7 linked regions of the Homo sapiens genome follow. The protein of the gene in region 7 interacts with the protein of the main gene of each other region in a biochemical or structural test. Each region holds a gene or a part of one and is shown on either strand. Other genes may lie near its edges.

Region 1 (3,500 bases), on a different chromosome or scaffold from region 7:
TGGATGGTTACTTCTGCTCTTTATTTTATTCTTACTTCTATTAAAAAGAGAGGATGATTTGCCACAGTGCAGACTCTGACTGAGTGGTCATCAAAAGACAGGCACAAGTCAGCAAATAAATTCCTTCTCCTTCTTTCCTTTCATGAACTGTTCTGAGGCAGTTTTCCCACATGGTCAGGTGTTGTGTGATGAGCCTGTATCTCTTCACAGCCCACCTCTGGGCATAGCACGCATAGGAATGTATCTTCCTGCAGCACTGCCATCCTTCCCTAGCTCACGTTCATTTTACCTCAGTCCCATCACCCTGGCTTTACATATCTCAAATCAAGAACCAGCACTTAAAACCAACCAACAAACATACAAACAATAAATAAATGATGGAGAAATAAACACAGGCATATGGATGACTCTCACAGACATAATGTAAATGAAAGAGGTCAGTCACAAAAAGTACATACTGTTTGATTCCATTTACATAAAGTTCACGAACGGGCAGAACTAATCTATGGTGAGAGAAGCAGAAGACACTGAGGGAGGCATGTGGCGTGTGGGAACTGTTCTCTAGCTTCATCTGGGTTGTGGTGAACAGGTGTAAAAAAAATTAATCAAGCTGTATGCTTAAGATTTATGTACTTACTTAATGTAAATTATACACAAATTTTTAAAAGTTGGAAAAAAATGTTAAAGGGCTCAACTCGAGTATAACCCCCAGCCCTATATCCTAGTTATCTTCCATAGTAACTGCAAAATGTGAATTTTTGTACTTATTAAAAAATCCACATTGTGCTTCTAAAAGTAGACAACAACTACCTTGGGAGGCCAAGGCAGGCAGATCGCTTGAGGTCAGGAGTTCGAGACCAGCCTGGACAAAAAAGGTGAAACCCCATCTCTGATAAAAATACAAAAATTAGCCGGGCATCGTGGCTCATGCCTGTAATCCCAGCTACTCAGGAGGCTGAGGCAGGAGAATCACTTGAGCCCGGGAGGCGGAGGTTGCAGTGAACTGAGATTGTGTCACTTCACTCCAGCCTGGGCAACAGAGTGAGACTCTGTCTCAAAAAAAAAAAAAAAGTGGACAACAATATCAGAATATACCTTTTCCAACTTAGAGTTCATGCTGACAATTAACTCTATGGCCAAATAGTCCAAACCTATTCCAATGAGGATCACAATACAAATTAACTGTATAATTGGGGAAATGAAGCAAGAAAAAACATTTTAAAAGTAACATGAAAATTGAAATATAAAAACTCATTTCTTGGCTCTGTCTGCCAGGCCCTAAGATTACCTCATTAATGAATCTATTACCTAATCAGTTCAAATTCAGGAAGGTAGACTAAACACACTTGGGGTGCACAGAGAAAAGAGTACCTGCCTCCCAGCCCTGTTCTACGAAGGCTGCAGAAAGGCTCATTACCTGCCTCCCTCAACTCAAACCACTCCTGAGTAAGGCTTCTGGGTAAGCTCTCTGAGGTCTAAGAAAGTTTGGTATATGCCTTGTCTATCAAAATGGAGCTCATAGCATGCATTAGACTCTGATACCTTCAGGTCATAAGAAGCCTTACTCTTCGGTCAGGACAGGCTAAGGGTAGCCACACAACAGGAAGTCAGTGGCAGAGAAAGGAAGTTAGGCCAGACTCCTACTTCCTGACCCAATCAAGGCAGCAAGGAGTAGGAGGTCGAACTCAAGCAGAAGTATGTCTCTCACACTATTGCAAATATGGCTTCTCAATCATAATGTAGCTGGGGAGCACCAGCTCAGCTGATACTTTCCCATTCCCTTAGTAGAACCCATCTCCATCTATCCATGAGGAATTACTTTAAAGAAAGGCTTGCACTCCCAGTGAGCTCTCATGGATTAATTAAGGAATACCAACTGATTAGCAGTTACACTATATTCAAACTGAAGTTAAAAAAAGAAAAGAAATCTGGAACAAAGACATATCTAGAATAAAGAACAAAAGGAGGCTGGGCACAGCGGCTCTCGCCTGTAATCCCAGTGCTTTGGGAGGCTGAGGCAGGAGGATGGCTTGAGTCCATGAGTTCGAGACCAACCTGGACAACATGGCAAGACCCCTATCTCTACATTAAAAAAAAAATTAGCTGGGCATGATGACACATGCCTGTAGTCCCATTTTCTCAGGAAGCTGAGATGGGAGGATCACGTGAGCCTAGGAGTTTGAGGCTGCAGTGAGCTATGATTGCACACCTGCACTCCAGGCTGAGCAACAGAGTAAGACTCCATCTAAAAAAATAATAATAATGTACATTTAAACTCTATTTTAAAAAACCACCCATAATACTATGAATAAAGTCCAGAAGATTTAGCAAAGTCTAGAATAAATTTGATTACAGTTTACTGATATCCTCATTTAAAACAGAAATAAAATATAATCATGGAGCTATTAAATGTTATTTTTAAAAATATTTAGTGGTAATCACTCATAAATACATATTTAAATGAGGGAATGAAGATGATCGTTCTCTGAAAAGGACTGTAATGGAAAGCAGGGTGATTAGAACTTAATTGCAAGGAATAAAAGAAACACACAATAAAGGTAAAAGATTATGTTTCTTGTCTAATTTCTGTTTAATTGAGGGTGTCCTATTTTGGGGGTTCTCATTAAGATCAAGGATATTGAAACAAACTTCAGAATCATCTGAAGAGTTTATCTTTTTTTTTTTTTTTTTTTTTTTTTTTGGTTTTCTTTTTTTGAGATATGGTCTTGCTCTCACCCAGGCTGGAATGCAGTGGTGCGATCACAGCTCACTGCAGCCTCAACCTCCCAGGGCTCAAGTGATCCCCCAGCTCAGCCTCCTGAGTAGCTGGGACTACAGGCCCACACCACAATGTCTGACTAATTTTTGGTACTTTTTGTAGAGACAGAGGTCTCACTTTATTGCTCAGGCTGGTCTCCAACTCCTGGGCTCAAGTGAACCTCCTGCCTTGGCCTCCCAAAGTGCTGGGATTACAGGTATAAGCCACTGCACTCAGCTGAGTTTATCTCTTTTGCGCCATTCTAAGTTAATAAATCTTAGTTATGGGGCACCAGAGGAGAAAGAAGAATTTAAAACAAATACCTGTTCCCTGTTTCTTTTTCAGGAGAGATGCACAGGCAGCATTGGTAGCCATGTCGAAGGCCAGCTTCTTCTCAATGTTTCTTAAGTCTGTTCTAGCACCTTCCCAACACAAGAAAAGTCAATTAGGTGTCTTTGAAGACTATATAGTAGTAGCCAATCCTCTCTCCCCACAGCTAACAACTTTTGGCAAAATAAACTAGTGAACAACTCTGGCTCAGAAGTAAACGTTCTCAAAACAATAAACTTTCTCATGCAGTATAATTTGGCATCTTTAATCGGGAAGCTTGTTGCTGCACCTGTGATAACAATTAATTCCGAACCTTTTGAGTCCCTATAGAATTGCATGTGAACTTTTCAGTGAGGAGTTTATGGTCCCTGTGGGGCTTGACTTCAATGAGCCCTTTGCTTCCTCTTTTGCT
Region 2 (3,500 bases), on a different chromosome or scaffold from region 7:
AGGACCCGGAGACTAGTCCCGTCGCTGAGGGAGAGGAAGAGGTGGGGGTGGGGGTTGCAAAGTCTAAAGAGGACCCCTCCCCAGGTACAGAGGGGTCTTAAGGTCCTTGTGTTCCTTCCGAGAGCACTGTGATCCTGCAGTGATACTGAGCCCCGATCCCACTCATAGGTCCCAAGTCCTGTGTGGTGCTTTTCTGGTAAAGAGGAATATGGAACAAAGGGCCTGAGATGGTGATGAAAATAGCAGCAGGGAACAATGGCAGGTGAGGGATAGGCCAAAGGCCAAAAGGCTAAGGAGCAAACTGCGGCCTTGCTCAGGTCTTCCCCCTCTCTGGCACTCCCTAAAATTAGGGGTAGGGGAATTGTACGTCTCCTCCAGCTTTGCACTCAGCACTCGGCTTCCACTGTGCATCCTGCACCATCCACTCTGGTCAGGGCAGCCTCCCCACTGTCCTCTGCTCACACCATCTCATGCCTGCCTGCCTGTGCTCCTGCCACCCGCCCGCCTGCAGGCCTTTCCTCCATTGTCCTGATCAACATCGTCCCAGGGCAAGTTTCCTTCCTTCCGTGAAGGTAGAACCACCCCTTTCTCTTTTCAGAGCTGATGTTACACAGGGCCTGGCCGGGAGAAACCACTTCTTGTTCTCTTCCCTGTAGCACTCCTCATGTAGGAGAAATCCTCATAGTAGGTGACCAGTAAGTACCTGCCAATTGTGATTTCATGCTGGAGCGAGCCAAGAGGCTCTCCCCCCACCAGATTGTCTGTCTGTTTCCCTGCTGTCATTGAGCTAAGTGAGCTTGTCCACACCTGTAGTCAGACAGGAGAGCTTTGCAAACTTCTCCCTCTTTTCACCTCCATCGTGTCTCCTGCCTTGAGCACCCCCTTAAGCTAATTCCTTTGACAGGAAATCTCAGGTGTCCTGAACTAAGAGCTCCCATGAGAAGAGCAGGAGACATTTGGAAGGGGTTACATTTTTAGACAGACTCTTGGGGCTTGGGGTCCTGTCTAATGGTTTTCAGCAAGTTGAAGGGTATTGGTTCAGTGGATTTTATTGTGATATAATACGAAGTGCTTCCACTCTTCTCTCTATCCTCTGCTACCCACTGAGAAAAGATCTGGATTGTCATGGAGTGAACAATGAGACCCAGATAAACACCTACATGGGCGGGAGCTTGGGAGGGAGAAAGGATGTTTCTTTAATTCTGAATTAGGAGGAGATGGTGGTGCTACAAAGAAATACATTTCTAGTTCAGTATGGAAGTCATTTGTGAAACTTCAACTTGGGTGTTAGGGAATAAGCCTTAGACGGTCTCTCCAGGTCAGCAGAAGAGGGGTTGAACGTTTTTACAAGGGAGCAAGACGTGGGGTGCTGCAGGAAAAGGCTGTTTTTTTGTCACACGTCCATTCCTGCAGGGTCCTCCACCTCCTGACCCCATCCTGCTCCTCTACCACTATTTCCTATCCTTTTTCCTTTCCAACTCTTTGATTGACAGGGCCCAGGGCTGGCCTGGCAGCTGTTTGCTCACCGGTTTTGGATGCAGCCTCTGCAGCAAAGTCAGCAGCAAACTTCTTGAGGACCTCCGCACTGTCTTCCTTTACAAAGAGGCCGATGAAGTTGGACGACGTATAGAGCTCCAGGGGCAGCGGGGCCGAGAACTTACATTTCCAGCGACTGACCGTGGTCTGCAGGGCTTCCCCCAGGGCATCCACCTTGCTGTCCTCGCACTGGCAGGGAAAACAGGCAGTCTTCACTCAGAGACAAGGGGAGATGGAAGTCTGCTGCTACTTAACATTGGCATCCTCTCCCCAGAGACTGGAGGAGGCTGATAATGCAATTACTTAACCACTACCCCTGTCTGTGGGGAGAGAGGAACTGCAGACTTCCAATTATTCAGACACAGATTACCCAACTGGTGGATTAATGTGGGGAACACATGACCTCTTCCCTCCTTTCCTTGCTGTGAAGTGGCCCCCGTGAACCCAGCCAAAATGCTGCAGGACTGGTTGAGCCGAAAGCAAGAAAGGGGAGCGAGATTGGGGAGATATTGGTCAAAGGACGTAAAACTTCACTTAGGAGAAATAAGTTCAAGAGACCTATTGTACAGCACAGTGACTATAGTTCATCATAACATATTATATGCTTGAAAATTACTAAGAGAGTAGAGTTTAAGTGTTCTCACCACAAATGCCTGATAAGCATGCGAGGTAATGCATGTACAATTAGCTTGATTTAGGCACTCCACAATGCATACATATATTCAACCATCATGTTATACGCCATAAATGTATATAATTTTTATCAATTAGAAAAAAATCAGGCTGGGCGCAGTGGCTCATGCCTGTAATCCCAGCACTTTGGGAGGCTGAGGCGGGCAGATCACTTGAGGACTGGAGTTTGAGACCAGCCTGACCAACATAGTGAAACCCCATCTCTACTAAAAATACAAAAATTAGCCAGACATGGTGGCGGACGCCTATAATCCCAGCTACTTGGGAGGCTGAGGCAGGAGAATCACTTGAACCCGGGAAGCAGAGGTTGCAGTGAGCCAAGATCACGCCACTGCACTCCAGCCTGAGTGACAGAGAGAGACTATATATCCATAAAAAAAAAAAAGAAAAAGAAAAAAAAAATCAAAGTTCTCCTTGCTTGTGAAAAAAAAAAAAAAATGAAGGAATGTGACAGGAGAGAGTGCAGCATCCCAGGAGAAGCTGCGTGTTTTCTACTATTTTGTATCATCTGTACTTTTCTTTTCCTCTTAGATGATCAGAAGTTGACTCTACATCCACCCTCATGATAGTTGGGAAGAATGAGTCCCAGAGAGCTGTGACATCATCCTCCTACCTTCCTGAGAGCATTGGAAAAAAGAATGAACGTCTCTCAAACTCTGAAGGGTTTTGAGAAAGATCCTGGGATGACTAAGAGGAAATGACAGTCACTTTAATTTTCAGAGTGAATGGTAAAAGAGAAGGTGTTAGGAACATTATTATTACCTGAGAGAGAGAAAAAGAGAGAGAATATATCTGGGGAAGAAAGCAAAATATTTTTTATAAAAATGGTTTAAAATGCTACCACTTTGTTTGGTCTTGAATATATGGAGATAAATCAACTCTTCTCTATTACCACAGAGAGCTAAAGTAGACAAAATGTATTTACATGTGTGATAGTGAGGGGGATTATATTTGGTCAGTAGAGGCCAGGCATGGTGGCTCATGCCTATAATCCCAGCACTTTGGGAGGCTGAGGTGGGCGGATCACTTGAGGTGAAGAGTTCAAGACCAGCCTGGCCAACATGGTGAAACCCCGTCTCTACTAAAAATACAAAAATTAGCCGGGCATGGTGGCATATGCCTGTAATCACAGCCACTTGGGAGGCTGAGGCAGGAGAATCGCTTGAATTCGAGAGGTGGAGGTTGCAGTGAGCCGAGATCATGCTGCTGCACTCCAGCCTGTGTGACAGAGTGAGACTCTGTCTCAAAACAACAACAACAACAAAAATTGG
Region 3 (3,500 bases), on a different chromosome or scaffold from region 7:
GATATAATCAAAGCCCCTGATACGGTTTGGCTCTGTGTCCCCACCCAAATCTCATGTGGAATGGTAATCCCCATGTGTTGGGGGAGGGGCCTAGTGGGAGGTGATTGGATCATGGGGGGAATTTCTCCCATGCTGTTCTCATGATAGTGGGTGAGTTCTCACGAGATCTGATGGTTTAAAAGTATGTGGCACTTCCCTCTTGCTCTCTCTCTCTCCTGCCACTATGTGAAGAAGATGCTTGCTTCCCCTTTGCCTTCTACTATGATTCTAAATTTCCTGAGGCCTCCCAGTGATGCTTCCTGTTAAGCCTGCAGAACTGTGAGTCAATTAAACCTCTTTTCTTCATAAATTACCCAGTCTCAGGTATTTATAGCACTGTGAACATGGGCTAATACAGGCCCTAATCAGTTGACTTTATATAAGGGACAATATCCTAGATAATCTGGATGGACCTGACTGAATCTGTTGCAAGACCTTAAAAGTAGAGCCTAGGTCTCACACAGAAAGGGCAGAAATTCTACCTGTGCACCACAGCTTTAGCCCATGTCTGTGCCACTTCATCCTTCTCATGAGCTTCTCTTCCTGACTGCCTGTAGATGACAGCTTTGGCCTATGTCCATGGGTTTGAGCCTGCCTGTGATCCTCCATTTCTGACTGCCTGCTCTATGGAATTCTGAGCCACTTAGTCAACATTCACAATCACATAAGCCAATTCCTTGTAATGCAATTTTCAGCAGTGGTATGATATATCTCCTACAGGTTATGCCTCTTTGGTTGAACCCTAACTGATACAAGGGGTTATAGTTAGATTCTATATTATTTATCTGGGGAGTTACTTATGATAAATTAAGTTTAAAAAAGCAACCTACAAGGTAATATATATAATATAATTTTTGTAAATATAAAAGTATTATGTTTGTATATGTTTATATGGACATGAGATAAGTATGGAAAGATGCATACTGCACTGTTAACACTGGTTATTTCATTCAGTATGGAAGTGACAGAGAAGGGGAAGGAATGCTAAGTTTTCTTTATATATTTCCATATTTGTTTAAATGGTTATAATGGTCATGCATTAATTTTATAATTAAAAAGTAAAAGTTTAAAAAAGCTATGATAAAACTATATGACCCTCATAAAATAATGATTAAAAATATGAAGTGATCTGATAGAAATGCTAATGATATAATGATGAGTGAAAATGAGGATACAAAATTATATCTATCCACTATAGAGAGGCAGGTATGGGGAGAGAAAGAAAAAAGATTCAGTCACCTTGATTTTTCTAATTAGACACATAAAAAAGGCTGGAAATATATATCAAAATGTTTATGAAAGTTATTACTGAGTATGTTCATGTGTTTTTTTTTTTTCTTGTACTTTTCTGTTGCTTTTTCCCTAAATTTCCTACAATGGAAGTGATTTACTGTTATTATCAAACCAAAAAAAAAAAACCTCAACATTTTTAAAGATGAACATATGCCTGTTCAGAAAGTAATTTCTAGAAGCTTTTCTATTAGAAGCAGATAAAGTCACAGGTTTATTAGGGCATTGTGTGGGAGACATTGTGTTAGAGCCAATGGGAATGGCAGGGGCCTTCTAATTGATTCAGGGTCTGAACACTAAGACCATTCCTTTAATAACTCTAACAGCCTAGGCAAGGTCAGTGGCTGCTGCTGCTTGCTATTGAGAGAAGTAGCCAGCAACATTTATATGCCACTCCACATCATGTCCCAATGGAGTGTCCACATACTGAAAGCAGTCTGATTCCAATGAGACTCAAAGTGAGTTATTAATTTGCACTCTACCCAAGTTCTGAGGAGAAGACTGGAGTTAGATTTGTCTTTCTGACCATCCTTTCTTACCTCTGGATAATTTCAATCGCCCACATGGAAGGATAAGAGAACCCTTTTGCACCAGGATTCAATGAGTAGGCCCATTTTTCTAGAGACAATTTCCATAAACTTGAGCTTTCAGGCCTTCTAAAGTACAATTTCACTCCCATAAGCAATAGGGCAAAGACAGAAACTGTATGTCTTCTCAGGGAATTAACAAGTCTGGTTGCTTGGTATTTTTTATGACAGAAAGGCAGGACCATGAGCAAGAGACCAGACAGTACTTTATAAGTCACAAAGCTATAGCCAATGGCGTCTAAATCCCACAGTTGGGAAGCAACATGAAAAATATCTCTACTATCTATATCCCCACTGGAAAAGAGAAACAACTTATTGTAAGGCAAAAAAGTATGTTTCAGTGTGATTTGAAATCATGAAAATGGTCATGGTTTTAAGTCCTGTTATATTTTCTATAATTTACTTTAAATACTTCCACACAGAAAGTGTGAAGTGTATGTGCATATTATTTGAATCTACAGTCTAGGGGGATTTAGTTAACATCTGAAGTATCCTAATCAGGAGTACAAACTATATACCTAATGACAGAGAGCTCAGGCTTTATGAAGATTACAGAACAGGTTGTATAACTGATTTTTGTTTATTTGCTAATAAATGTATGTTTGGGAGAATCAAGCCTGAGGCTGGCTTTCAGTGTGATATTCTTAGCTAGTAGGGGAGGACAACCTATAGTTCAAACCTACCACTGACTAATGGAAGCTATTGGTACTTACCAAAAAGAACCTAATAATAAGGAACCACCAAAGTAGCTTAAGTCAGTTTGCAACAGAAATCTTCCCTCTGACTCCAAGAAAATGGAAACCAATTCAAACCTCCTATGTTCTTCATAGCCATGTTCTTCTTTCTACTCTCAGGTCACTTACCAATTTTTTCATCTTCCTGTACCATTTTCCTCTCTTCTCTGAAAGCCCTGAGCCAGCGTATTTTTTCCTCCAGCTTCTTGGCAAAGAACAGATGTATCTCCTCAGTCTCCTTGTTGTGAAGCTTAAAGGCATTCTTCATGCTGACATTGAAGTCATCATCTCTGCCATCCTCAATGTCAACTACCTCATATTTATCCATGTCAATGCGGCCTTTGTAGTACAGGATGTCTCTCCGGATTAGGTCCTAGATGGGAAGGAAGAGGTTTCTTGAAGGTATGTGCACGGCGAGTACTAGAAGAGTTGGCACAGGGGCACAGCAGAATGCTAACACTGTCACCGTTTTGAAGTACCAATGGGGGTTGGTTTGTTCTAAATTTGGCCAGGTTATACTAGTAGTCTGACACTGACAGGTTGGTTAACTAGATGCCCAAAGAAAAAGCCTCTGTCTCACCTCGAAAGATCATTTCAGACACCAGAATCAATCCTTGGACGTGTGTGCAAGTCTGCTGATGGGAGGTAGGAAACAGTAAGCCACATAAACACGGCTAGCAAGGGCTTCTCCTTTTCGAAAACATCAGCAAGCCCACTAGAGGTATGAAATGAGCTGGCTGGTTGCCTGGAGTGTGTTCAAATATCTGTGCAGGCCAGTGAGACCTGAACATCAGAGGGGGACTGAGTAGTAAGAGTAGCTAGGAGGCCACAGACTGCTGGCAAAGGATTA
Region 4 (3,500 bases), on a different chromosome or scaffold from region 7:
GGCATGTCAGAGGTCTTCACGGCAACTGCACCCATCACAGGCCCAAAGGCCTAGGAGGAAAGAGTGATTTCCTGGGCTGTGCCCAGGATCACTATGCTGTGTGCAGCCTAGGGACTTGGTGCCCTGTGTCCCAGCTGCTCCAGCCATGGCTGAAAGGGGCCAATGTAGAACTCAGGCCATGGCTTCAGAGGGTGCAAGCCCCAAGCCTTGGCAGCTTCCATGTGGTGTTGAGCCTGCGGGTGCACAGAAGAACTGAGGTTTGGGAACCTCTGCCTCGATTTCAGAGGATGTATGGAAATGCCTGGATGTCCAGGCAGAAGTTTGCTGCAGGTGCAGGGCTCTCATGGAGAACCTCTGCTGGGGCAGTGCAGAAGGAAAATGTGGGGTCAGAGCCTCTACACAGAGTCCCTACTGGGGCACCACCTAGTGGAGCTGTGAGAAGAGGGCCAAAATCTTCCAGACCCCAGAATGGTAGATCCACCAACAGCTTGCACCGTGTGCCTGGAAAAGCTGTAGACACTCAACATCAGCCCGTGAAAGCAGCCAGGAGGGAGGCTGTACCCTGGAGAGCCACAGGGGCAGAGCCGCCCAACACCATGGGAACCCACCTCTTGCATCGGTGTGACCTCGTTGTGAGACATGGAGTCAAAGGAGATCATTTTGGAGCTTTAAGATTTGACTGCCCCACTGGATTTCAGACTTGCGTGGGGCCTGTAGCCCCTTTGTTTTGGCCAATTTCTCCCATTTGGAATGGCTGTATTTACCCAATGCCTGTATCCCCATTGTTTCTAGGAAGTAACTAACTTGCTTTTGATTTTACAGGCTCATAGGCAGAAGGGACTTGCCTTGTCTCAGATGAGACGTCGAACTGTGGACTTTTGAGTTAATGCTGAAATGAGTTAAGACTTTGGGGGACTGTTGGGAAGGCATGATTAGTTTTGAAATGTGACGACATGAGATTTGGGAGGATCCAGGCAGAATGATATGGTTTGGCTGTGTCCCCACTCCAAACTCATCTTGAATTCCTATGTGTTGTGGGAGGGAGCCGGTGGGAGATAATTGAATCATGGGGGCAGGTCTTTCCTGTGCTGCTCTCGTGAGAGTGAGTAAGTCTCATGAGATCTGATGGTTTTGAAAAATGGGAGTCTCCCTACACAAACTCTCTCTTTGCCTGCTATCATCCATGTAAGACGTGACTTGCTCCTCCTTGCCTTCCACCATGATTGTGAGGCCTCCCCAACCATGTGGAATTGTAAGTCCATTAAACCTCTTCATTTTGTAAATTGCCCAGTATCTGGTATCTTCATCAGCAGTGTGAAAATGGACTAATACAATATCTAATGCAAGAATTGTTTACAGGTTTATCTTGAAACTTGTAGGTATAGAAAGTGATGGAGAATCTGGAGTTTGCTAGGGCTTTGGGAATGTAACACTCAGCCAAGGTTCCCTCAGAATTCTTTTTCAGGGACTCTGAAATCAAGGTATCTGGCATTCCCCTGAGAGCTCAAGTACTCATATTAAATGAACACCTTTTTGAGGACTTGTCTAAGCATCTACTTCATGCTGTAGCTTGAGGGTAAATGCTCCTGCTGTTCAGTACAAGCAACCCAGCGGCCTGGCTCCCTAGCTATCCCCTAATCAATTACACTGAATGTGCTCTAGGACCCCTCCTACCGCACCATCTCTTAGTCTGCAGTTCCCTTAGAACTCTGCCCACATGCATAATAGTCCTTTCCTAAGAATATTTTGAATAGAGGTTTCCCTCTCTTTCTGCTATATCATCTTTCAGAAGATTACTTGATTTCCAATAATACTCTTTTTTATTGGAATTTTTTTATTCTATTATTTCCATTCACTTTTATAGACCTAAAGTAGAAAGGGAGGGAGGTAGCTATATGTGCTCAGTCTGCCATCTTGATCCAGGATCTCTGGATCACCATTCTGCTTTTATCTCTTATTAGTATCCTGCTATTCCTAGACCCCCTGGGTTGCTTTCTATTATTGACTTTCCTGATGACACATAAGTTCAAATCTCTGGTACACAAGCCAAAAGTGACATGTATTCACGTTCTTGGGCCCTAGACCAATTGCTGTTGGTTGCCTACCTCTTGTACTCTTCCTATTTATAAATTTTTTCTCCTGTGAGTCTGGTGAATATGAATGAAGTCTCCAGAGGCTTATCATTCCCAAATTAAGGGAAATAATTTGAATTTTCAGTGTGCCAGTATAGGAAGCGGTGAACTATAGTTGTTAGAAACATAAGCTTAAATCCCAACTCCCTTGGCAAGTCACTTAATCTCTTTTCAAATTTAATTTAAAACTTTTTTTTTTTTTAAGAGACAGGTCTCTCTATGTTGCCCAGGCTGCTCTTGAACTCCTGGGCTCTAGTGATCCTCCTACGTCGGCCTCCCAAAGTGCTGGTATTACAGGCTTGAGCCTACTCAATATCTATGTCTTAGTTTCCTCATCTATAGAGTAGCCATATGAATTATCATTGTACCTTTAGGGTAGCTGTGAACATTCTTCCTGTAGGCAAATTCTAACACATGCTTACTAATATGGTAATAAATGTTAGCTATTACTATTATTAAAATCTACTCCCTTGGCCAGGCATGGTATCCCAGCACTTTGGGAGGCCAAGGTGGGTGGATCACTCGAGGTCAGGAGTTTGAGACCAGCCTGGGCAATGTGACAAAACCCCATCTCTGCTAAAAATAGAAAAATTAGCCAGGCGTGGTGGCATGCACCTGTAATCTCAGCTATTCAGGAGGCTGAGGCATGAGATCACTTGAACCCGGGAGGCACAGGTTGCAGTGAGCCAAGATCTCACCACTACAGCCTGGGTGACAGAGTAAGACTCTGTCTCAAAAAAAAAAAGAAAAAAAAGAAATCTACTCTCTGGACAGCAAAGATACAAGATGGAGTTTTCTCATGAGTCTTTCTTAACCTGGAAGTCTTTAGTGCTTAATGGAGCCTGATTAAAGAAAGTTCTACTTAGGGACTTCCCATCTGCACCACTGCTATGGATGCCATAGCAGAATAAGAGACATAAATGTCCCAGAGGTATATGTGTCTCCGAGGTATGAGATTCTTTTTTTTTTTGGAGACAGGGTCTCACTCTGTTGCCCAAGCTGGAGAGCAGTGGCATGATCATTGCTCACAGCAACCTCTGCCTCCCAGGTTCAAGCAATCCTCCCACCTCAGCCTCCCGAGTAGCTGGGACTACTGGGATATACCACCACTCCTGGCTAATTATTTTTTGTATTTTTTTGTAGAAGCAGGGTTTGGCCCTGTTGCCCAGGCTGGTCTCAAACTCCTGGGCTCAAGCAATCCACCCACCGCAGCCTTCCGAAGTGCTGGGATCACAGGTGTGAGCCACCGCACCCGGCAAGGTTTGAGATTCTTTATCTGAGCAGCAAATGAAGTCAGGAGGCTACAGCAGTCATAGGCTCAAAACAGAGTCAGAGGCTCAAGACAGCCTATCTAGGGTGATGAAATAA
Region 5 (3,500 bases), on a different chromosome or scaffold from region 7:
GCTCACTTCCCGTTTCTGTCACATTTTGGCAATACTAGAAATATCTCAAACTTTATTATTATATTTGCTGTGATCTGTGATCACTAATCTTTAACGTTACTATTGTAATTGTTTTGTGCACCATGAATCGTGCCCATAGAATATGGCAAACCTAACTGATAAATGTTAGATGTGTTCTGACTGCTCTACCAACCAGCCATTCCCCCATCTCACTCCCTCTCCTCACGCCTCCTGATTCCCTGAGACACATTCATATTGAAATTAGGCCAATTAATAACCCTAAAATGGCCTCTAAGTGTTCAAGTGAAAGGAAGCGTCGCACATTTTTCACTTTTAATCAAAAGCTAGAAATGATTAGAGAGGAAAGCATGTTGAAAGCCGAGATAGACCAAAAGCTGGGCCTCTTGTGCAAAGCAGTTAACCAACTTGTGAATGCAAAGGAATAGTTCCTGAAGGACATCAAAAATGCTACTCCAGTGAACATGCAAATGATAGGAAAGTGAAACAGCCTTATTTGCTGATATGGAGAAAATTTTAGGGGTCTGAATAGATCAAACCAGCCACAACATTCCCTTAAGCCAAAGCCTAATCTAGAGGAAGACTGTCTCTTCAATTCTATGAAGGCTGAGAGAGGTAAGGAAGTTGCAGAAGGTAAGTTGGAGGCTCACAGAGATCGCCTCATGAGGTTCAAAGCAAGAAGCTGTCTCCAAAATATAAAAGTGCAAGGTGAAGCAACAAGTGCTGGTGGAGAAGCTGCAACAAGTTTTCCAGAAGGTCTAGCTAGAATCATTGATGAAGGTGATTACACTCAACAGCAGATTTTCCATGTAGATGAACCAGCCTTCTATTGGAAGAAGATGTCATCTAGGACTTTCATAGCTAGAGAGAAGTCAATGGCTGGCTTCAAGGCTTCAAAAGACAGGCTGACTCTCCTGTCAGGAGCTAATGCACTGCTGACTTTCAATTGAAGCCAATGCTCAGTGACCATTCCAAAAATTCTGGGGCTCTTAAAAATTATGTACAAGAGGCTGGCTGCAGGGGCTTACACCTGGAATCCCAGCATTTTGGGAGGCTGAGGTGGGTGGATCACAGGGTCAGGAGTTCAAGACCAGCCTGGCAACATGGTGAAACCCCGTCTCTACTAAAAATACAAAAATTAGCTGGATGTGGTGGTGGGCACCTGTAGTCCCAGCCACTCGGGAGGCTGAGGCAGGAGAATTGCTTGAACCCGGGAGGCAGAGGTTGCAGTGAGCTGAGATGGCGCCACTGCACTCCAGCCTGGGCAACAGAGTGAGACTCTGTCTCCAAAAAAAAAAAAAAAAATGATGTACAAGGAGACGAATGTTATTTTCATGCCTGCTAATGCAACATCCATTCTGCAACCTATGGATCAAGGAGTAATTTTGGCTTTCAAGTCTTATTTAAGAAATACATTTTATAAGACTATTGCTGCCATAGATAGTGATTCCTCTGGTGGATCTGGGCAAAATCAATGGAAAAGCTTCTGGAAAGTATTCACTATTCTCAGTGCCATTCAGAACATTCATGATTCGTAGAAGGAGGTCAAATTATTAACATCAATAGGAGTTTAGAAGAAGTGGATTCCAAACTTCATGAATGACTGAGGGGCTCAAGACTTCAAGAGGAAGTAACTGCAGATGTGGTGGAAATAAATAGCAAGAGAACTAGAATGAGAAGTGGGGCCTGAGGATGGAACTGAGTTGCTGCAATGTCATGATCAAATTTCAGTGGATGAGGAGTTGCCTCTTATGGAGGAGCAAAGAAAGTGGTTTCTTGAGATGGAATCTATTGGTGAAGATGCTGTGAACATTGTTGAAATGACAACAAAGGATTTAGAATATTGCATCAACTTAATTGATAAAGCAGCAGCAGGGTTTGAGAGGATCGACTCCAATTTTGAAAGAAGTTCTACTGTGGGTAAAATGCTGTCAAACAGCATTGCATGCTACAGAGAAATTTTGTGTGAAAGCAAATCTCACTGTTGTCTTATCTTAATAAATTGTCGCAGCCACCTCGACCTTCAGCAACCACCACTCTGATCAGTCAGCAGCCATCAACATCAAGGCAAGACCCTCCAGCAAATAGATACAACTTTCAGATGACCATTAGCATTTTTGGCATTAATTTCTAATCAAGATGTCTACATTTTTTAGACATAATGCTATTTCATACTTCATAGACTATAGTATAGTATAAATATGACTTTTATATGCACTGGGAAACCAAAATATTTCTGCAGCTCTCTTTATTGTGATATTTATTTCTGTGGCCTTCAACTGAACCTGCAATATCTCCAAGGGATGCCTGTTTTAGGATTCCCCCTTTACAGACAAGGAATCAGAGGCTTAGAAAGATGAAATAACTCCACCAAGGTCCTAACTCCACCAACTAGCTAGCAGCGAAGCCAAACCCAGGCCTGCTTGGCTTAATCTCTTGCTAGGTTGACAGAGGCACCACTCAGCCACCAAAAGACTTTCAGGCCCTGGTGTCCCCGCCTCCCGGCACTGACCGGAGTGCTGGCCGCAGGATGCCATTGCCGATGATGAAGTGCAGCTTCTCCAGGTTGGAGGTGGGCCGGTCCTCCAGCATGCTGTTGCCCTGCACTGTGGACTCCCCGTCATGCAGCCTCTTGGTCACCTGGGCCAGAGGGAGAGGACAGGGCAGGTAAAGTTAGGGGTGTTCCCCTGCCAGCCAGGGCACCAGCACCCGAGGCTGCCTGCTCCCCAGAAAACAGAATCTAAGGAGTGAGCAGAAGAACTGGGCTCCCCATCACTGTCATTACCCCTGCCACGTGCACAGCAGATGCTGGGCCAATAACTGGCCCACACAGCAGGGGCACACTGGCCCGGTGCCACCCACTTCTGGGGACAGAGCTCCTCTGGCCACCTCCTCGATACCCTGCACCCCACACCCCACCCCAGGGAGGTCCTCTCAGCCAGGACAGGGACATGATCCTCTGACTCCAAGCGGGACCCCTATCTCTCTGGGGTGCCCCCGCCAACATAACTGTGGCACCTGGAGTATACTCCAGGTTCCAACCACCAGTCACCACCACTCTGTCACCAACACCCTTAGCCCCGATGTGACCAGCCTCACACCAGTTCTTATGAGATGTTTCTCCTCTCTCATCCCACACAGCCCACAGCACAAGCCCCGAGCTCTGCCCAGAGGATGTAGGGTGAGTGAGAGGCGAGCGGCAGGAGTGGGTGGTGCAGACAGGGAGCACCACTGAACACCCTCGGCTGCCATTTCTGCCTTCTTCCCAGGACCCCACGGAGTGGGCATTTTCTTCCCTGGGTCCCTTGAATACTAAGCGGCAGAGGTGGGATTCAAATCTGAGGCCACACACCTGCAAGGCTGGATTTGTGCCTCAGGTGGGGACAGGACAAGGGCAGAGGTGAAGTGGGAGCCCCTGACTCTGCAGTGGAGGAGCTGGGGAGGCTTCCTGGAGGAGGTGACCCCAGGCAGAGAAAGGAGGA
Region 6 (3,500 bases), on a different chromosome or scaffold from region 7:
ATGGCTTGGGCCAAATGTTGCAGCTGTGTTCAGGCTATCCTGGGGGTGGTGGCGGGGCAGTGGGTAGGTGCCTGTTCCAGGGAAGAGGGCCTGGGTCTGAACTCAGTCTCTGCCATTTGCTGGCTGGTGATAGGCAAGAGAGTGATGTTCTCAGTGCCCCAGTTTCCTCATCCATACAATGGGGTGGATAACATGAACTACTTCCTGGGTATGCGCAGTGGAGTAAATGAAATAAAGAAGGAGTAGCAGTTGGCGCAGGGCCTGGCACCCTCAATGTTCAGGAAACAGCAAGCGTCTTCACCATGATCGGCCTGCTGAGTTCCACAGGGCAGCACTGGTCCTGTCTTGTTCCCTTCTGACCTGGCCCTTAGCACACAGAGCCAGGCACATAGCAGCAGACGTCAAGGACTTCTGCCTACCAGATGGAGTGCTCTCAGGCATGCCATGTCCCCTGTTAGGGCCTCAGATTCCCTTCTGTGAGTTAGGACCATCGGCTGTGCTCTAACCTCCTCACTGGACAGTGAGTGAGTGACGACGGTGGCAGATAGGTAGCATCTATGCACCAAACACTTTGCAGCTATAAGATGTGGTGGCCATTTCTGTAAAGCCAGAAAGAGTCTTCCAGGTCCACAAAGAAGCCACAGGTCTTAGGGACATACCAAGGGCAAACTTCTGGCCCCTGGGGAGGCCTGGCTAACTGAGAACAAGGGGCCACCTAGTGTGACAAATGGATGCTCAGTGAATCCTGAGGGCCCAAGGGACAGCAGGCCTCTCCCCTGTCCCTGCTGGAGCTTGCTGGGATGGTGTCACCCCCAGGAAGTGGTGGGTGTGGGGAGAGATTAGAGGGTGGGTGGCTATGAGCAGAGCCTCTCACTCCAGGATGCCTGGCCCACTTTGTTGTGTAGACACAGTTCCCATCCATCCTCCACCCACAAGGCTGGTGGCCTGCACTATCTCTACTCCCTCATGCTGGTGGCAGCAGGGGGCATACCTGGGATGGTAGGCATGGACTGGCTGGCAAAGCTCATTTGAGAGAGGACAGACGCCTTGAGGGGGATGGCCGCATGCTCCGAGAGGTTGGTGTCACTCATGAACTCATGCTTCCTGGAAAGCTGGAGGAATACACCAGACACACACACACACACACAAAGACAGAGGCTTAGCATGAGGCAGATCTGGGTCTCTGAAAGATCAGTGAGGAGGGCGTGGCATGGTTTCTATGAAGCTGGCTCCAAGTTCATTTATTCTGTATTATACCATTCCATGCCAGCCTGCCACATATGGTTGCACAGGTTGCACACTACACAACTACAGGCGGGGGTGGCGGACATTCATTTAGACTATCATGTAAATGGTGTCCCCTAGAATCGACAAACACAGAAGACATTTCCATTCTTATCCATCCACGCAAGAGTAGCCTGCGAGGCCCACTGGGAAGTTTCTGGAGGGCCCTTTCTTCACTAAGGCATCTTGGTTGGCCCCTTGCTCTTTCATTTGGCACCCCTCCCTTGCCAGGGCAGTTAATCCATCTCCCACTCCCAGGTTCCCAGAACACTTCCAACAAACCTCTTTTCCAGGGGGAAACTAAGATTGAATCCAGGGCTGTCTGAAACCAAGTCTCATTTTTAAATAATCGTTAGTTTACAAGACCAACACTCTCAAAGCCAGGACAGTGAGATTTCATCCCTGTATCCCCACCTGGACTCCTGGCACACAGGAGGGGCTTGCAGGGGTCTGAGACATCAGTGGTTAGAATAGGCCTGGGGCTGGGGGCTATAGAAACACCTAGCTCAGTACCAAGTGGGCTGCTCTCCCTTTTGGTGGGAGAACAGGTGGATTCTCCCCAGCCTGGAAAAGCCCTGTGTGATGGTGGAAAGGATACACACAGGCTCTGAAGTGCAAAGGTCAGGGCTCAACTCCCAGCTCTGTCATGTCCCAGCCACCCCAGCTGCCTGGGCACGAGTAAGCACTTCACCTCTCAGCTCCTCAGGTGCCGCCTCTGCAATACCCATAGCACCGCAGTGGCAGGCTTCAGGAAGCCCATATCTGGAAGCCCTGGGTTTTGTGCCCAGCATGTAGTGGAAATGTGCTAACAGCGCTGGAGAGGCAATCTGCCTCAGCCACTCACCCGCTTCAGGTCCGACTCTGCAGCTGCTTTCTCATCCGCAAAAACTACGCTGCTTCTCTTTGTCCTCTTCTTGGACCTCCGCAGCTTGACCTCAGGCAGGGTGCTCCCCGGGGAGATCGGTTCCTCCTGCTCCACTCTCGGCGTCTTGGGTGATGCTAATTCCAGGTCAAAGCTGAAAGGCCAGAGGGGCAGCAATAGAAACTGCAGTTAGAGCTTCAGTAGAACTGCCTTGCAAGGACCCAGGAAGCTGAAGGGGACCTTTGGGCTGCCTGAGCTGTCACTACAGGGTCTGGAGTAGATCAGCAAATCTGGCAGAGGATTTGGGGAGCAACTTGCTCAATGCACAAACAGTTAAATGTGATGAGTAAAGTTCACTTTATTTTATTCGTGGTAAAATGAAATTGAAAGAAGTGAGCCATAGAAAAGAAACTGGTGGTGAGGAGAGAAGACTGGTTGAAAGCATGAATGTGGATTCAAATCCAGGCACGGCCAGTTCTTAGCTGAATGAATAACTTTGGGTAAATCACTCAACCTCTTCAAGCCATCATTTCCTTTTCAGTAAATGGAGGTCTTCGCAGAGACCTTGCAGAGTGGCCATGAGATGATGTCTGAGGAACCCTTGGCATATTCTTGGCATATGGTAAGTGCTGGGTTGCTCATGTATCTATGATTAGAACAGATGAGTTGGGCAGGGTGAATGGTGCCCCCTAGAATTGTGAATGATGCCCCCTAGAACTGTGAAACAGAAGACGTTTCCATCCTTTTCCCTCTGGGCAAGAGTAACCTCTGAGGCCCGCAGGGAAGTTTCTGGAGGGTCCAACAATGATGGCCAGAGGGCTCCAGGAAGGTGGAAGGGGCAAGGGAGGGAAGACCCCCGACAGAGGGGTGGGTAGGTGGTGCAGGAGGAAGAGCTCTGCAATGGAGACATCCCATCGTGGTTGGGAGGAGCTTCCTTGAAAGGGAACAGATCCCTATGAGAGGTGACAATATTCCAGAAGGATGCAGGCTTGGTGAGGAGCTCTGCCTGGCTGACAGAGATCACTGGACTAGAAGTCTGGGGGCTGCAGGTGACTCCTGCTGGGTCCTCAGGAAAGCTGCCTTGCCTCTCTGAGCCTCTGATAATCCCCTAAAAATGGTACTAACCATGAGCCTCCTGGGGTAGTTGTGAGACTGCAGATGGGAAAAGGCTTTTAAACTGAAAGGAGGAAGGGAAAGGTAGAAGGGATGTTGCCGGAGAAGAGAGAGAAGGAGGGGGGATAGAGCCAGGGAGGCAGGGGTGTGGGGGGCTCCTTGGGGTGCAGGGACTGACCTCTCTGAGGTAGGCTTGCTGGGGGTGCTGCAGTCAGAATTCATGGAAGCCAGAGAGATGATG
Region 7 (3,255 bases):
GTGGCAACGTCGTATCAGGAGCACAAAGAGAAGCCTGCCTCTTTCAGTTTGGTCTTTTCTCCAGCAAAACAGAAATGCAATTTAGTCAAACACATACAGAGGCCCCACTGTACTGCCTCACTGATGGAGGGAAATACTTGGGTGCAATCACACACAGTGTTAGTGATTGGCAACTGTCCAGTGCTATTTCGCTAAAACTGGTAAAAACAGTTTCCTTGGGCAAGCAGCTGATTGGCTACTTCATACTGTGCTGAGTTGGGCTCAGCTTGTCTGTCTCTGGGAGGCCCTAAGGGGCTCCTCTTTTTCAGCTAGGGATAAGGGGAGACTGTCAACCAGTATCTTAGCGTGAACTGTCAATCGCTGAGCCCCTGCCAAGGACTCTCTGGAAGTCCCTCAGGTATGCTGAAAATACCTTATACTGAAAAGGTAGCTCTCGCTGCATCCACTGCCACATAGTATTCCCAGTGAGGCCTATTAACACAGGGCCATAACTGGCTCTTGAGGACACACTTGAGCGATGTGTTTTTAACCAAACCTCAGGGAAGGCAGCCTTGTCCTGCTGCTGTTGCAGCCTCCATAGCTCTCTTGGGATCAAGGACTGTGTTGATGTCTTCAAGCCAACAAGGAGCTTGGTGCCAGTACTGTCCTGAATTATTGGCTCTAGCCCCTACAGCCTCTAATCTGATTCTAATAGGCACTATTTTTTTTTTTTGAGACGGACTTTTGTTGCCCAGGCTGGAGTGCAATGGCACGGTCTCAGCTCGTTGCAACCTCCGCCTCCCAGGTTCAAGTGATTCTCATGCCTCAGCCTCCCAAGTAGCTGAGATTAAAGGCGCCCACCACCACACCTGGCTAATTTTTTTGTATTTTTAGTAGAGACAGGGTTTCACCATCTTGGCCAGGCTGGTCTCGAACTCCTGACCACAGGTGATCCGCCTGCCTCGGCCTCGCAAAGTGTTGGGATTACAGGCATGAGCCACCACGCCCGGCCCTAATAGGCACTATTCTTGCCCCGCAACCTGGTCTGGCTAGCTGCTTGCCATCTAGGTCCCTTTCAGCTGACATTTCCTTTACAATGACATTCTTTTCAATGAGATCTAAATTTTTTTTTTAATGAAATGGGGTAGATGAGTACAGTTGTGTACGATTAAGTTCTTGTTATCTACCAAAGTGGCCTAGATATCGGCAGCAAAGGCCCAGAAATACAACCCAGGTCTAGCTATTTCCCTGCCTAAAGTAGAAAAAAAATAACATTAGCTTATAAGTCTGCTGCTCCAACCAGGGCCAAGCTGGTCTTGAGCCCTTGTTTAAGACAAACACTACCCTTCCAAGAGTAACGATACCCCACCTCACTTTAGCAGTCCCTCTTTCTACCATGTACCGCAAAATTTAAGCAAGAGCAGAACTCTTACTGTCACATCTAGCAAAATCTTGGCCTTCTAAAGGTTTATCCGTAGGTGTGTTTGTCTGACTCTCAATACTTTAGTCACCAGCATTCTCCCAGGCACTTACTTGTACATTCTGCCCCACCACAGAGATAAAGACATACCATAAGCTTCATAAGAATCTTGAACCTCCCCATGTCCATAGTCATAATATTCTGAGTCCCTGAAAGCCAAAGGCAGAGTGTTAGGAAGCTACAGAGTAACTATGTTTCAACTTTCTCTCAAATACTTCCATAAGTCAGTCATTTTACTAAGTGTATTAATACAGGAAAATACTCATTCTGCCCCATCCCTAAACCGTAAAGTATTTCCAAAATATGTATAGACTATGTACTTATAAAATAATTGACAACTATTGCAAAGAAAAATGGATACCACAGAATATAAAGTGAAAAAGCACAATCCTAAATTGACCCTTTTAATATAGCATATATATACATGTATTCATAGGGCTCACCAGAAGGAAAAAAGAACTGTTTTATCACTGCTGTAGAATTCTGGAACTCTTTTTCAATCAATTCACAGGTAAGCTATATATATGGACACACAAGGAAATGGTCTTAAAGAGAAATGCAGAAAAGAACCTAAGTTATGGTAATGGAATTCAAGTTTCTTGTAAAATTTTATGGAGCTTTAATGTGGTTTTGATATTTTAAAATAATAAATCAAAATAACATAAAGGCATTTCTCCTTGTTTCCATGTAGTCACAGCTTGGAAATTTTTCATTTGTTACTCTCAGGTTCTAAATTATAATTTAAGGTTCACAGTTATCCAGATTTACAAATCCAAGTGTGTGCTTCACAGATGTCAAACGCAGAGGAAAGCATTGCATGGTGGCACGCACCTGTAACCCCAGCTACTAGAGAGAGCTAAAGTGGGAGGACTGCTTGAGCTCAAGAGTTCAAGACCAGTCAGGACTGTGGGGGTTGCAGAGGAGATACCCTCAAAAGGCGAACCATTCTGCTCCTTAGGGTTGTACTGTCTAAATCTCTCTGTTCCTCCAACTCCCTCCATCCATCCTCAGGACAAAAAACAGTGCTTATACTGCCTGACTCACCCTTGACTCTGGCTGTAATAGCCTTCGTAGCCTTCGTAACTTTGTTCTGCGTATGTATCATCATATCCCTAGAACAACAACAACAAAAAAATGAAATAAAAGATCAAAATCATAGAGAGTAGGAAAGGTAATTACATCCCATGGGAGTAAGTAGGCTTCTGAATTAAAAGGACATGACATTTCCCTCCAAAATGTTAATGCCTACTGTAGAATAGTCAAAAGAGAAAGGGTTACTAAACAAAGAAAACCCAAACAAATATGATATGCCACAGAAGAAGTGTGGGCAGGAAGTAAAGTACAAAATCGAGCTTTAGTATTATCAGTACTAGTAGTAAGAAATTCATTATAAAATACTACATTAAAGTACATTTTATTTCTTGTTTAATCTACAGGCGTATAGTAAAACCCTGCCTAAAATGGAAAAATCTTCTAATAGTTCAACATTCACTGCAAGAGAAGAGGGCAGATTGCAAATCTTACAGGCAGTCCATGACACCTACATAAAGGACCGAGGCCCTGTCATTCAACTTCCTTTAGCAGCCTTCTAGGTACTGGGAAATGGCACATTGTTCAAATTTCTTACATATTCTTCATATGTTTCTGGTGCAGGAGGTGGAGGCAAAGGTATCCTCTGGATGCCCGCTGTCCGTGCTCTTGGTGCTGGAGCACCCCTCACAGTAGGTGGGGGTGGCACGCCTCGAGTCACAGTGGCACCTCTGGTGATGGCTCCCCTTACTGGTGTACCACGTACC

What was found.
Region 1: the proteins of KHDRBS1 (region 7) and OSTF1 interact in a test that uses a peptide from one of them, tested with the Homo sapiens proteins (one study listed by BioGRID).
Region 2: the proteins of KHDRBS1 (region 7) and UBASH3B interact in a test that uses a peptide from one of them, tested with the Homo sapiens proteins (one study listed by BioGRID).
Region 3: the proteins of KHDRBS1 (region 7) and ARHGEF9 interact in a test that uses a peptide from one of them, tested with the Homo sapiens proteins (one study listed by BioGRID).
Region 4: the proteins of KHDRBS1 (region 7) and DNMBP interact in a test that uses a peptide from one of them, tested with the Homo sapiens proteins (one study listed by BioGRID).
Region 5: the proteins of KHDRBS1 (region 7) and MYO7A interact in a test that uses a peptide from one of them, tested with the Homo sapiens proteins (one study listed by BioGRID).
Region 6: the proteins of KHDRBS1 (region 7) and DOCK2 interact in a test that uses a peptide from one of them, tested with the Homo sapiens proteins (one study listed by BioGRID).

The regions. Positions count from the first base shown.
Region 1 is NC_000009.12:75,140,514-75,144,013, reverse strand, and holds part of OSTF1 (osteoclast-stimulating factor 1), read right to left. Parts: intron 3,181-3,500; coding exon 3,082-3,180; intron 1-3,081.
Region 2 is NC_000011.10:122,777,722-122,781,221, reverse strand, and holds part of UBASH3B (ubiquitin-associated and SH3 domain-containing protein B), read right to left. Parts: intron 1,726-3,500; coding exon 1,527-1,725; intron 1-1,526. UniProt on the Homo sapiens protein: Interferes with CBL-mediated down-regulation and degradation of receptor-type tyrosine kinases. Promotes accumulation of activated target receptors, such as T-cell receptors and EGFR, on the cell surface.
Region 3 is NC_000023.11:63,652,715-63,656,214, forward strand, and holds part of ARHGEF9 (rho guanine nucleotide exchange factor 9), read right to left. Parts: intron 3,024-3,500; coding exon 2,780-3,023; intron 1-2,779. UniProt on the Homo sapiens protein: Acts as a guanine nucleotide exchange factor (GEF) for CDC42. Promotes formation of GPHN clusters.
Region 4 is NC_000010.11:99,950,948-99,954,447, forward strand, and holds part of DNMBP (dynamin-binding protein), read right to left. Parts: intron 1-3,500. UniProt on the Homo sapiens protein: Plays a critical role as a guanine nucleotide exchange factor (GEF) for CDC42 in several intracellular processes associated with the actin and microtubule cytoskeleton.
Region 5 is NC_000011.10:77,183,746-77,187,245, reverse strand, and holds part of MYO7A (unconventional myosin-VIIa), read right to left. Parts: intron 2,659-3,500; coding exon 2,531-2,658; intron 1-2,530. UniProt on the Homo sapiens protein: Myosins are actin-based motor molecules with ATPase activity. Unconventional myosins serve in intracellular movements. Their highly divergent tails bind to membranous compartments, which are then moved relative to actin filaments.
Region 6 is NC_000005.10:170,077,775-170,081,274, reverse strand, and holds part of DOCK2 (dedicator of cytokinesis protein 2), read right to left. Parts: coding exon 3,438-3,500; intron 2,301-3,437; coding exon 2,129-2,300; intron 1,113-2,128; coding exon 992-1,112; intron 1-991. UniProt on the Homo sapiens protein: Involved in cytoskeletal rearrangements required for lymphocyte migration in response of chemokines. Activates RAC1 and RAC2, but not CDC42, by functioning as a guanine nucleotide exchange factor (GEF), which exchanges bound GDP for free GTP.
Region 7 is NC_000001.11:32,037,868-32,041,122, reverse strand, and holds part of KHDRBS1 (KH domain-containing, RNA-binding, signal transduction-associated protein 1), read right to left. Parts: coding exon 3,087-3,255; exon of another isoform or gene 3,004-3,086; intron 2,572-3,003; coding exon 2,504-2,571; intron 1,609-2,503; coding exon 1,550-1,608; intron 1-1,549. UniProt on the Homo sapiens protein: Recruited and tyrosine phosphorylated by several receptor systems, for example the T-cell, leptin and insulin receptors. Once phosphorylated, functions as an adapter protein in signal transduction cascades by binding to SH2 and SH3 domain-containing proteins.